Linked DNA regions of Homo sapiens. The protein of the gene in region 1 purifies or fractionates together with the protein of each later gene. This does not show direct contact. Each region holds a gene or a part of one and is shown in the gene's direction. Other genes may lie near its edges. The genes, in order: EPDR1, METRNL and SEMA3C.

What was found.
Region 2: the proteins of EPDR1 (region 1) and METRNL purify together in Homo sapiens (affinity purification with mass spectrometry; one large-scale study listed by BioGRID and IntAct). This does not show direct contact.
Region 3: the proteins of EPDR1 (region 1) and SEMA3C purify together in Homo sapiens (affinity purification with mass spectrometry; one large-scale study listed by BioGRID and IntAct). This does not show direct contact.

What each region holds. Positions count from the first base shown.
Region 1 is NC_000007.14:37,944,635-37,948,292, forward strand, and holds part of EPDR1 (mammalian ependymin-related protein 1 isoform 1 precursor), read left to right. Parts: intron 1-3,658. UniProt on the Homo sapiens protein: Binds anionic lipids and gangliosides at acidic pH.
Region 2 is NC_000017.11:83,089,507-83,092,671, forward strand, and holds part of METRNL (meteorin-like protein isoform 1 precursor), read left to right. Parts: intron 1-3,165. UniProt on the Homo sapiens protein: Hormone induced following exercise or cold exposure that promotes energy expenditure. Induced either in the skeletal muscle after exercise or in adipose tissue following cold exposure and is present in the circulation.
Region 3 is NC_000007.14:80,800,422-80,804,079, reverse strand, and holds part of SEMA3C (semaphorin-3C isoform 2 precursor), read left to right. Parts: intron 1-1,300; coding exon 1,301-1,415; intron 1,416-3,253; coding exon 3,254-3,323; intron 3,324-3,658. UniProt on the Homo sapiens protein: Binds to plexin family members and plays an important role in the regulation of developmental processes. Required for normal cardiovascular development during embryogenesis.

The sequences.
Region 1 (3,658 bases):
ATCAGACCTTGTGAGACTTATTCACTACCAGAAGAAAAGCATGGGAAAGAACCGTGCCCATTATTCAATTACCTCCCCCCAGGTCCCTCCCATGACACATGAGAATTATGGGAGCTACAATTCAAGATGAGATTTAGGTGGGGACACAGCCAAACCATATTAATGACACTTCTGTGATCCTGTGGATTTGGGGAGTGATGGCGATGATTTCAAGAAGGAAACCCCCTCTCCTGCACATGGCTACATATTCTCCAGGGAACAACTATTGCAGTCTGAGAAGCACACAACAGGGATATCAGCAAAAGCTAGGAATGCCTTTCTAGCCCAGATATCTAGCACTGGGGAAAGCACAAGATATTGCTGGTGGTGAGGAGAACAATGAAGACAACTTGTTTTTTGGGTGGCCCACGGGTCATTAAAAGTATCACAGGACAGGATTTGTGTATGGACAACAATTCCCATATTTACAAATGAACAATGCTCTAAGAGTTGGGTTAATGTTGCTGTGTTTCTTCAATCAGTGCTTAGGCTCTATTGTGTCAGAGATTTAGCTGGTTATGAGAAAACAGTGACAATCCAAACCCAAACTTTTTCAAAGGGCTAACAGTTTTACGTTGACCCTGCATGCATATTATAAAAAATTAGCTCCATTTTTGAGCAATATCTCATAAAATGCACACTTATATTTCTTTCTATATTCATTCTCATTTCTAAAGGTATGTGTCTGGGTTATTTTTACCCTTGTAAGCCGTTTCAAATCTTTTCTGAAATAAACAAGATACACATAAAGGTGTAAAATGATGTCATGTTTATATTTCCATACTACCTCATAGAAACCTGAAGCATACGGCTACTAATAATACAATGATGTGCTTCATAATGACGTTTCAGTCAATGAAGTGGTGGTCCCATGAGATTACAATGGAGCTGAAAAACTTCCATTGCCTAGTGACCTCATAGCCATAGTATGTGGTAGCGCAGTGCATTACTCACATGTCTGGGGTGGTGGTGGTGTAAACAAACTTACTGTGCTGTCAGTTGTACACAATTCTAGCATATAAGTAATTACTGTATTATACTTTTTTTTCTTCAACTTTTATTCTAAGTCAGGGGTACATGTGCAGGATGTGCAGATTTGTTACACAAGTGAACGTGTGCCATGGTATCTTGCTGCACGGATCATCCCATCACCTAGGTATTAAGCCCAGCATCCATTAGCTATTCTTACTGATGCTCCCCCTCCCCCAAGCTCCACCAACAGGCCCCAGTGTGTGTTGCTTCCCCGACGCGTCCATTTGTTCTCATCATTCAGCTCCCGCTTATAAGTGAGAACATGCAGTATTTGCTTTTCCGTTTCTGTGTTAATTTGCTGAGGATAATGGCTTCCAACTCCATCCATGTCCCTGCAAAGGACATGATCTTGTTCCTTTTTATGGCTGCATAGTATTCCATTGTGTATATGTACCCCATTTTCTTTATCCACATTTTCAGTCTATCATTGATGGCATTTAGGTTGATTCCACGTCTTTGCTATTGTGAATAGTGCTGCAATGAACACAGGTATGCATGTATCTTTAGAATAGAATGATTTATATTCCTTGGGGTATATACACAGTAATGGGATTGGTGGGTTGATGGTATTTCTGGTTCTAGGTCTTTGAGGAATTGCCACGCTGTCTTCCACAATGGTTGAACTAATTTATACTCCCATCAACAGTGTAAAAGTGTTCCTTTTTCTCCACAACCTCGCCAGCATCTGTTGTTTTCTGACTTTTTATTAATAGCCATTCTGACTGGCATGAGATGGTGTCTTTTTGTGTTTTTGATGTGCATTTTTCTAATGATCAGTGATGTTGGGCTTTTTTTCCTATGTTTGTTGGCCACATGTATGTAATTACTATATTATACTTTTATCGTTATTTTAGAGTGTGCTCCCACTTACATAAAAGGTAACTGTGAAACTGCCTCAGGCAGGTCCTTCAGGAGGTATCCAGAAGAAAACATTGTTATTATAGGAGGTGACAGCTCCATGCATGTTACTGGCCCTGACAGCCTTCCAGTGGGACAAGATGTGGGAGTGAAAGAGGGTGATACTTATGATCCTAACCTTGTGTAGGCCTGGCTAATATCTGTGTTTGTGTTGTAATTTTTAACACAAAGTTTTTTTTTTAATAAAATAAATTTTAAAATAGAAAAAAGCATATCAAATAAGGACATAAAGAAAATATTTTTGTATAGCTGTGCAATTTGTGTTTTAAGCTGTCTTACTACAAAAGAGTCAAAAAGTTTAAAAAATCAAAATGTATATAAAGTTAAAAAGTTACAGGAAGCTAAAATTAATGTATTATTGAAGAAAGGAACATAGTTTTTATAAATTTAGTGTAGCCTAAGTGTACAATGTTTATAAAGCCTACAGAAGTGTATAGAAATGTCCTAGGCCTTCACATTCTGTCACCACTCACTCACTCACTCACCTACCCAGAGCAACTTCGAGTCCTGCAGGCTCCATTCATGGCAAGTACCCTATACATGCGTACCATTTTTTATATTTTATCCCATATTTTTACTGCACCTTTTCTATGTTTAGATACATAAATGCTTACCATTGTGTTACAGTTGCCTCCAGTATTTAGTGCAGTCACATGCAGTACAGGTTTGTACCCTGGGAGCAGTAGGCCATACTGTGTAGCCCTGTTGTGTAGTAGGCTGTACCATCCAGATTTGTGTAACTGCACTCTATGATGTTCGTGCAGTGATGAAATAGCCTAATGACACATTTCTCAGAACATAAGCCTATCATGAAGTGACGCACGACTGTGTTTTGACTATAAAGACAGTAACCATTTCTAACATTTTTTTCCGAAGAAAATAGTTTTTAAGCTCGGGCTTGGGCTGGAGAGCAAATGTCTTCCCTGAAGTCTCCTCTAGTGCATTGGGTCTCATAAGCCACAGATAATTTGTTGGCTATTTTTATTTGCTGATGACAAGTCACTTCTCTAGGCTCTTCAGCCCTCAAGTGTTGCAGATTTCACTTTCTGAGGTCATGGCTGCAAGACACATTTTCTTGACCAGCAGCTGTGGCCTGAGTTTTAGATTGACAGTGAAATGCATAGAAACACAGCAGGCTTCCCCCAACACCAAGATGTCTCAGCTTTAAGGAAGATACAGGACTGATGCCAATACTGCATGGCTGGTGACTCCTGGGCTCAGCCTCTGAATATCTCCCTGTCACTCCCCAGGAAGGGTGAGCAGGTGGTCACGGGAGGAGGCTGAGAGCATGGAGAGAAACTCAGCTAAGGGAGTCATTTGCTCTGGGGTCGCCTCAGCTTTTGTCTTTGCTCTCATCTCAGCCACTGCAGGGTATGTGGGCTGCGCCCGTGCCGGATCAGCTATGCGCATCAAAGCCCCTTACTCATGACTGCTCGGCAGTGGAGGCAGTGAAGCACAGGCACTCGGTCCATCCAGTCCTCAGTGTGTTCTTGTCCTATGTTCAGTATACCCCCATAATTCCTTGACTGAGTGCTGTGAGAGAAAATGCACCACACAAGAGTCAAGTCCTCCTGTGTCTCTGTGGGTAAACAAAAGTTCACAAACCAGCTCTTCAGCCGGAGCCATATCTTCCCCATGTTTGTATGCTAAGCACAGGGTCTGGCATATA
Region 2 (3,165 bases), on another chromosome or scaffold:
CAGCAGCGTCCCCAACCCCACCCTGCCGGTCCCTCCCACCCTGTTCATGCTAGCTCCTGAGAGACCTGCCTGAGATGTCCACACCCCAGCCCTCCCCCTCCGAGGAGGATGGACCAGGATTCCAACCCTTTGCCGACCCTCCCCACCGCCCTGGAGACGAGGTGCAATGTGTCCGTGAGCAGCGCGTTCCGCAGCCTTTATGAGCCTGGCTCCTGTTAATAATTGTCTCCCGATTGTCTCCCGGCGTCCACCGGCGTCCACCCTGCATTCTCCGTGAAGGTGACTTCTGCTTTGTAAAGCTCAGAATCAGAACAGGGAGGTCTCCAGGGTGCTCCTTACGAGCTCAGCTGTCGTTGGGTCGTCTCCAGAGGCTTCTAGCAGGCGAGGCTGCAGGCACTGACCGTCCCCGGCCCCACACCCCTGCCGTCAGCCGGGTGAGCCAGGGCGGGGTACCCAGGGCACGTGAGGGCAGCGTCTCCATCCTCCCCCTCGGCCGTCCGCTGAGGTCGTGGGGCCGTGACTCACAGAGGGCGAAGTGCTAGGGCTTGCATACCCTCACGCGCCCAGGCCCCGGGGTGGGACGCATGTGGCTGGGCCTGTGGGCTCCCCTGCCCCAGGGTGGGAGCCACACACCCCCGCCCCGCCCCAGGGTGGGAGCCACACACCCCTGCCCCGCCCCAGGGTGGGAGCCACACACCCCCGCCCCGCCCCAGGGTGGGAGCCACACACACCCCCGCCCTGCCCCAGGGTGGGAGCCACACACACCCCCGCCCTGCCCCAGGGTGGGAGCCACACACACCCCCGCCCTGCCCCAGGGTGGGAGCCACACACACACCCCCCACCCCCCGCCCCAGGGTGGGAGCCACACACACACACACCCCCCCACACACACACCCCCCGCCCCACACACACACCCCCCGCCCCACACACACACACCCCCCGCCCCACACACACACCCCCCGCCCCACACACACACACACCCCCGCCCCACACACACACACCCCCGCCCCACACACACCCCCGACTGTGCTGCTGACTGTGAGGATGGACTTCCGGCACCTCCTGCCTCCTGCCTTTGCAGGACCGCCTGGCCCAGCCCCAGCTGCCATGGCTGCCCAGCCGGAGGGTGCTGCTCAGTGAGGGGACCCTCGGGTGGACTGGGGTCACCACGCTTCTGTCGTTGACCAGCTCTCTCTCAGCCGAGGCCACCTCCACTCACATGAGGCGCCCTGGGCTGGGACCTCTGGCCCTGTGGTACGGGGCAGGTGCTGGCGTGCAGTCTCACCTGTGGAGGATAAAAGTGCTGCCTGAAATTTGAGATCCCCCAGTGCTCCCTCCTTGTTGCTTCCGGACGTGAGTGGTGGTCTGTGCTGCTGGCCTCTGTCCAGCACGTGCCTGCATCAGGCCCAGCATGGTCTGCAGACCCCCAGCCGGCGAGTGGGATGGGGGTCCACATAGGTGAACTAAGTGTCAAGGGTGGGCCACACCCCGGGGCCCCCATAGGAGAGCGCACCGGGCGGCTTCCAGCTTGGGGGTCAGGAGGCCCCCGTGGTGGGGGCTGCAGTGTGAGTCTGTACACATCAGCAGGAAGGGGATTTGGCCAGAAGCTCCCATTCTGGAGGGTTGCTGGGATGGCAGAGGTGCCCCCCCAGTGCCAGGCTGGACCGGCCTCAAGGTGCTCAGCAGTGCCAGGCTGGACCGGCCTCGAGGCGCCCCCAGTGCCAGGCTGGACCGGGCCTCGAGGCGCTCAGCAGGCTGTGCAGTTTCTTTTTCCTGATACCTTAATGGAAGCAAATGCAGGAGGAGGTGGGTGGGCCGGTGAGTCAGGCACTGAGCCCGGCTGGGAGGCGCCCTCACCCCTGCCTGGCGGAAAGTGCTGGCCTTGTCTCTGGGTCCCTCCTACCTCCACCCTGCGGGGTCCACAAAGACCTGCGCTTGCCCAGTGCACCGTAGACTCCAGGGTCTCCGTTGACCACATGTGCAGGCCCTGAGGGTCCATGTAAGTTCCTGACCCCAGAAGGCCTCTGAGCAGCTGTCCCCGCCTTGGCCAAGGTGCCAGATATGTGTGCTGCCCTGTCCCCTGGGACCCCCAGTCACCAGCAGCTGGCTCGGGCCTGTACTCATCAGGCAGGTGACAGCTCAGCTCACTTCAGCCCAGCAAGGGCAGCCGGCCAGGGGTGCAGACGGCGTTAGCTTCTTCCAGGGCCGGCGAACCCCAAGTCAAGGTCGTCCCAGCTCTTGGCCAGGGACGTTTCAGAGCCTTCAGAACGTGAAATGGCACCGGCGAAACCAGTGCCATTGAGATTTCACGTCTCAAAGTTTCTATTGCGTTAGGAGACTTGGGGCCAAAACCTAGAGGCTCAGAACAGGTGAGGCCTTGAAACCTGCAATAAGAGCAAATAATAAAACCATGTTTTCCAAGTCCGTCCCGAGTGTAGGAATGCGGGGCGTGCAGAGGTTTCTGTTTCACAGTGGCCCGCCCATCTAAGAAACTGGGGCGAAGGGCAGGGCGAGGGCTGGGCCGAGGGGAGAAGGTTGTTGGGAAAGCCTGGTTTGGCCGGTACGGGAGCTCATTCTGAGAAGCCTCCGTGCTTTCCGCATTCTCTGGGGGAGGCCAGGCCCCGCAGGGTTCAGGGGCTTCAGAGGGGGTTCTGTGAGCAGGGCTTGGCTTGAAAGCCATTTGGGGCATGCACCTCATCCCGCGGCCAGGTGGCATCCGGGGAAGGGGCCGGGCCGATGGCCCTGACTGGAACTCACTGCCCTGCTGGGTGAGGCCCCACGCCGGTGGCAGGTGGACGCGTCGCTGCCTGCTTAGGGATCCCCTTCCTGGAATCTTGGCCTCGCTGGCCCTTCCAGCCACATGGGGGGTCCCGCGGGATGGGATCCTCCTTTTGGGTGCCGCTGCCGTCGCGACCCAGGGAAGTGGGCAGCAGAGCTGTGGGGAGTGTCTGCCCTTCGAGGAAGCTGGGAAATGAGGGTGGTCCCGGCGCCGTGGGCCGTGGAGGTGGGTTGGGGGCGACTCTGGGAGGTGGGGGTGCTCCTGGCGCCGTGGGCTGTGGAGGTGGGTTGGGGGCGACTCTGGGAGGTGGGGGTGCTCCCGGCGCCGTGGGCTGTGGAGGTGGGTTGGGGGCGACTCTGGGAGGTGGGGGTGCTCCCGGCGCCGTG
Region 3 (3,658 bases), about 43 Mb from region 1:
AAGAAAGACCAAGAAATTCAAATTATGGTTTATCTCCGTGCTTTTATTATCAACCATTACAAATAAATAAAATATTGAGGGAAGCATTTAATGTAACATTTATTCATCATCATTATTATATTTAATATTCATCATTTTATATTGAATATAGTGTTTATAACCCCAACCCAAATTCTAACCCTCAATAAGTTATATGAGATAAACATACCCTATTTTAGTAAAAATCTTAATTCAAGAAAATATTTTGTTTTTGTTCTTGAACAAATAAACACTTCTGACAAATTTTTGCATATTCATTTAATGCATTGGTATTCAAACCAATAGCTAAATTGCATATTACCTAAAGAAACTGATTGTTGTCAATAAAATACAGTAAATATCTCAGTAAGAGATGATTATTAAGGAACCATTTATAAATAGTGAAAATTAAGAAAAGCTTTAATAAAATTCTAATTAAAAACAGTAACCAAAATGCTCTTGTGTAGAAACAATAAGTATACATAGCAACACAAGAAAATTTGTGATGTCCTTTCTATAATAGAGTTTTACAGACTTATCCTGACTTATTTATGATTAGCATCCTTTGTGAAAAAATGTTTCTTAAAGTGCTTAGTGTTTAAAATAGTTTATATATTATAATACTCCACTGATCATGGAGCTCAACTGTTTCTCAGTCATTTGCAACAAGGCAGCGAAGTCAGCAGAAGGGGTAAAAGGCCTTTGGACACAGGAAGAAAATGTCTTCACTGGAGACTATTTGTGAATGATCCAAATGCCATTTCTCCTTATAATGTATAATTAGGCATCAGATTAGAAATACTGAAAATTATGTGATAATTTGGATAAATGAAGGAGTGAATGTAAAACTGTTGGGGACCATTTTGTGTAAAGATATAATCACTCTCCTGACCACAATCTGCAAAACTCACTGTGTATAATAATTTATGTTCAAATTGAAGACAATAAATTATCAAGGAAAGGCAGATTAAATGATCTATTTTCTATAACATTATATAAATACTTCCATTGTACATCGTTAAAATTAGAAATAATTATGTCACACATTTATCAAATAAATGTATTTTCAGCTGACATCATGCTATAAGAGAATAATAGTATAACTATTGTATAAAATACTATAAGTCATAAATATTCCTCTTTGACAACTGATGTGCAGAAGTGGTTAACATATCCATTCTTCAGATTTTCATCCTCCAAGCAACTAGAGTACAAGTCGAATTTTTAATGTGCTTCAATATTTACTTAAGCAATCTGAATTATGTTTACAAAATGGTTTTAGAATGACACTGGTGGACTGCGTAGCCTTGTCAACAAGTGGACCACTTTCTTAAAGGCGAGGCTGGTGTGCTCGGTAACAGATGAAGACGGCCCAGAAACACACTTTGATGAATTAGGTACATACATATGAGATTGAAAAATGCTTCTGAAAGAAGGCTTGTAAAGTTTATATATTTAAATAAGGTCTCAAAAGAAGATGTACTTTCCATATTTTCAGCATAAATAATATGCTAATTTAAAATAATTATCTAGATACTGTTCATAAATTTTCTTAAGTATTTTGTAATCTGTTACGCCCATGAGTGCACTGCTGAAACATTTAGCTCATTGAATTCACCATAATATATGAATGAATGTGTGTGTTTGGGGGTGTAACTTGTATAATGTGTGTATAGGTAATGATATGTTTGTGTTTTTATAAATGAATATTTATTTCATGTATATTAGAATATCTAATATTCTGATTTTGTGTGAAAATACAGCTATATATTTTTACTATTGTAGCTAATGGACAGGATAGAGTTTGGATGGAAAAAAGTGTCAGAGTAGAAATTTGGAGACTTGTGTTCCCTTCTTAGTTCTGCTTGGTGACTCTGAGATTAGATATTCTCAATGTGACATGAGGAGGCTTACACTTTCCAGGTCGAATAAGGACTGACAGTCTGATTCCCTCTGCCAAGGAACAGTTTTTTTATTTTTTTAATCTGAATATCCCAGGGCACATCATATTTACTAAATGTCATTTGTAAATGACTTTTCTTTCACCTTAATTCATTAGAAGGTAAAATAATGGTCATTCTCAGATTTTGAGACAGGTGATAAGTTATAAATCTGTGTTACCATGTGGAAAAAATTTACTGATTCTAATAGTAATGAACTATATCGTTCTTCTGATCAAAAACCATTATGTTGATTATGGAACAAAAGTTTCTAGATAAGCTTTTCTAGAGAAAAGTTCTAAGTATCATTTTGTGAAACAGGCTACTTGCTCATTCTACTCCCCTGAATGTTTGGGAATATATTTTATGTTTCAGTCTTTCTTTTTTTTTTAGGGAGAGCTAGACATTGTCAGCCTTTATTCACATATGGAAGGACTAGTGATTGTTAATTTGTTGTTTGAGTGGTTATAAATTTATTGCTTATGAGGTCATTTAAATTCATTTTTAATTTAAAATAAATACATATTTCTTTGTGTTTCTCAGTAATAATTCTGTTAGCAAGATTGTCACTATGTCTGGGCCTTTCATATAATCATGGCAATTGATTATTAATTGGAGTTTTCTATCAGAAATCTACTTTCATATTCTGTTATTTATCACTTCACTGTGCATACTTTTGTTTTTGCCTTACTACACTTTAAACATCTTTTTGTTAGAGGAGCTATCATTAAATAAAAGTATCACTAGCAATTTTGACCATATGCCACAAAAAGTTCTATTTGATGGTAAGATGAGTTACCGTGAAAAAGTTTTATTCCATCTTCCAGCTCCTAAGATTAGATCAAAAAGAAATTGAGATTTGTAATTTTTTTAATTAAAACAGTAATATATTAACATTAAAGGATATTTAGAAAGAAGCACCAGAATATTTCTACAGCTTTGCCTCTTGTAACACTCACTGTTAATCTTATTCTTATATTCTGATGGATATTTTTAAGGTTAATATGGTTCTAGTCCATATTATGTAATATATCATTGTACTTTTTCCCCATAATATTATTTTACTAGCATGGTTTTCACAAGGATACAAAATTTTCATAAATTCCATTAGTATCTGTATTAATTTAATTTAATTTAGTGTTTCTATCATTATTTGTTTCCAAATTACCATAATGGTACAGGAATATCTTTTTGCAGAGTACTTTTCAGAGTTGAAATTATTTTCTTAGGGTAAATTTTTCAAAACAAAGAAGTTAATATTTAGAAACTTTAAAAGAATATTTTCCTTTTTATAGAGGATGTGTTTCTGCTGGAAACTGATAACCCGAGGACAACACTAGTGTATGGCATTTTTACAACATCAAGGTAATTATTCAACAGTTACATTTTATGAGTTAAACAATAAACTTCATGGAGTAACAGTAATTATTATAAAAGCATTCTTCTCTGCAACTTTTAATTTTACATGTCATTTGGGATGTAATCCTTCCATTTTATTTACTTTTGCCTGATTACCAAAATATATTGGAGCTAAACTAATGCTTTCCAAATACTTTTGTAGAGAGTATTTGTAATGATTGCATGATATTTTTATCAAACAAATCAAAATAATGAATTATAATGTAGGAAAAAATACGTGATTTTTTCAATAAAATAATTTGAGCACTTGTGAGCAAATAAAACTTTTGGCATTTTTTTGG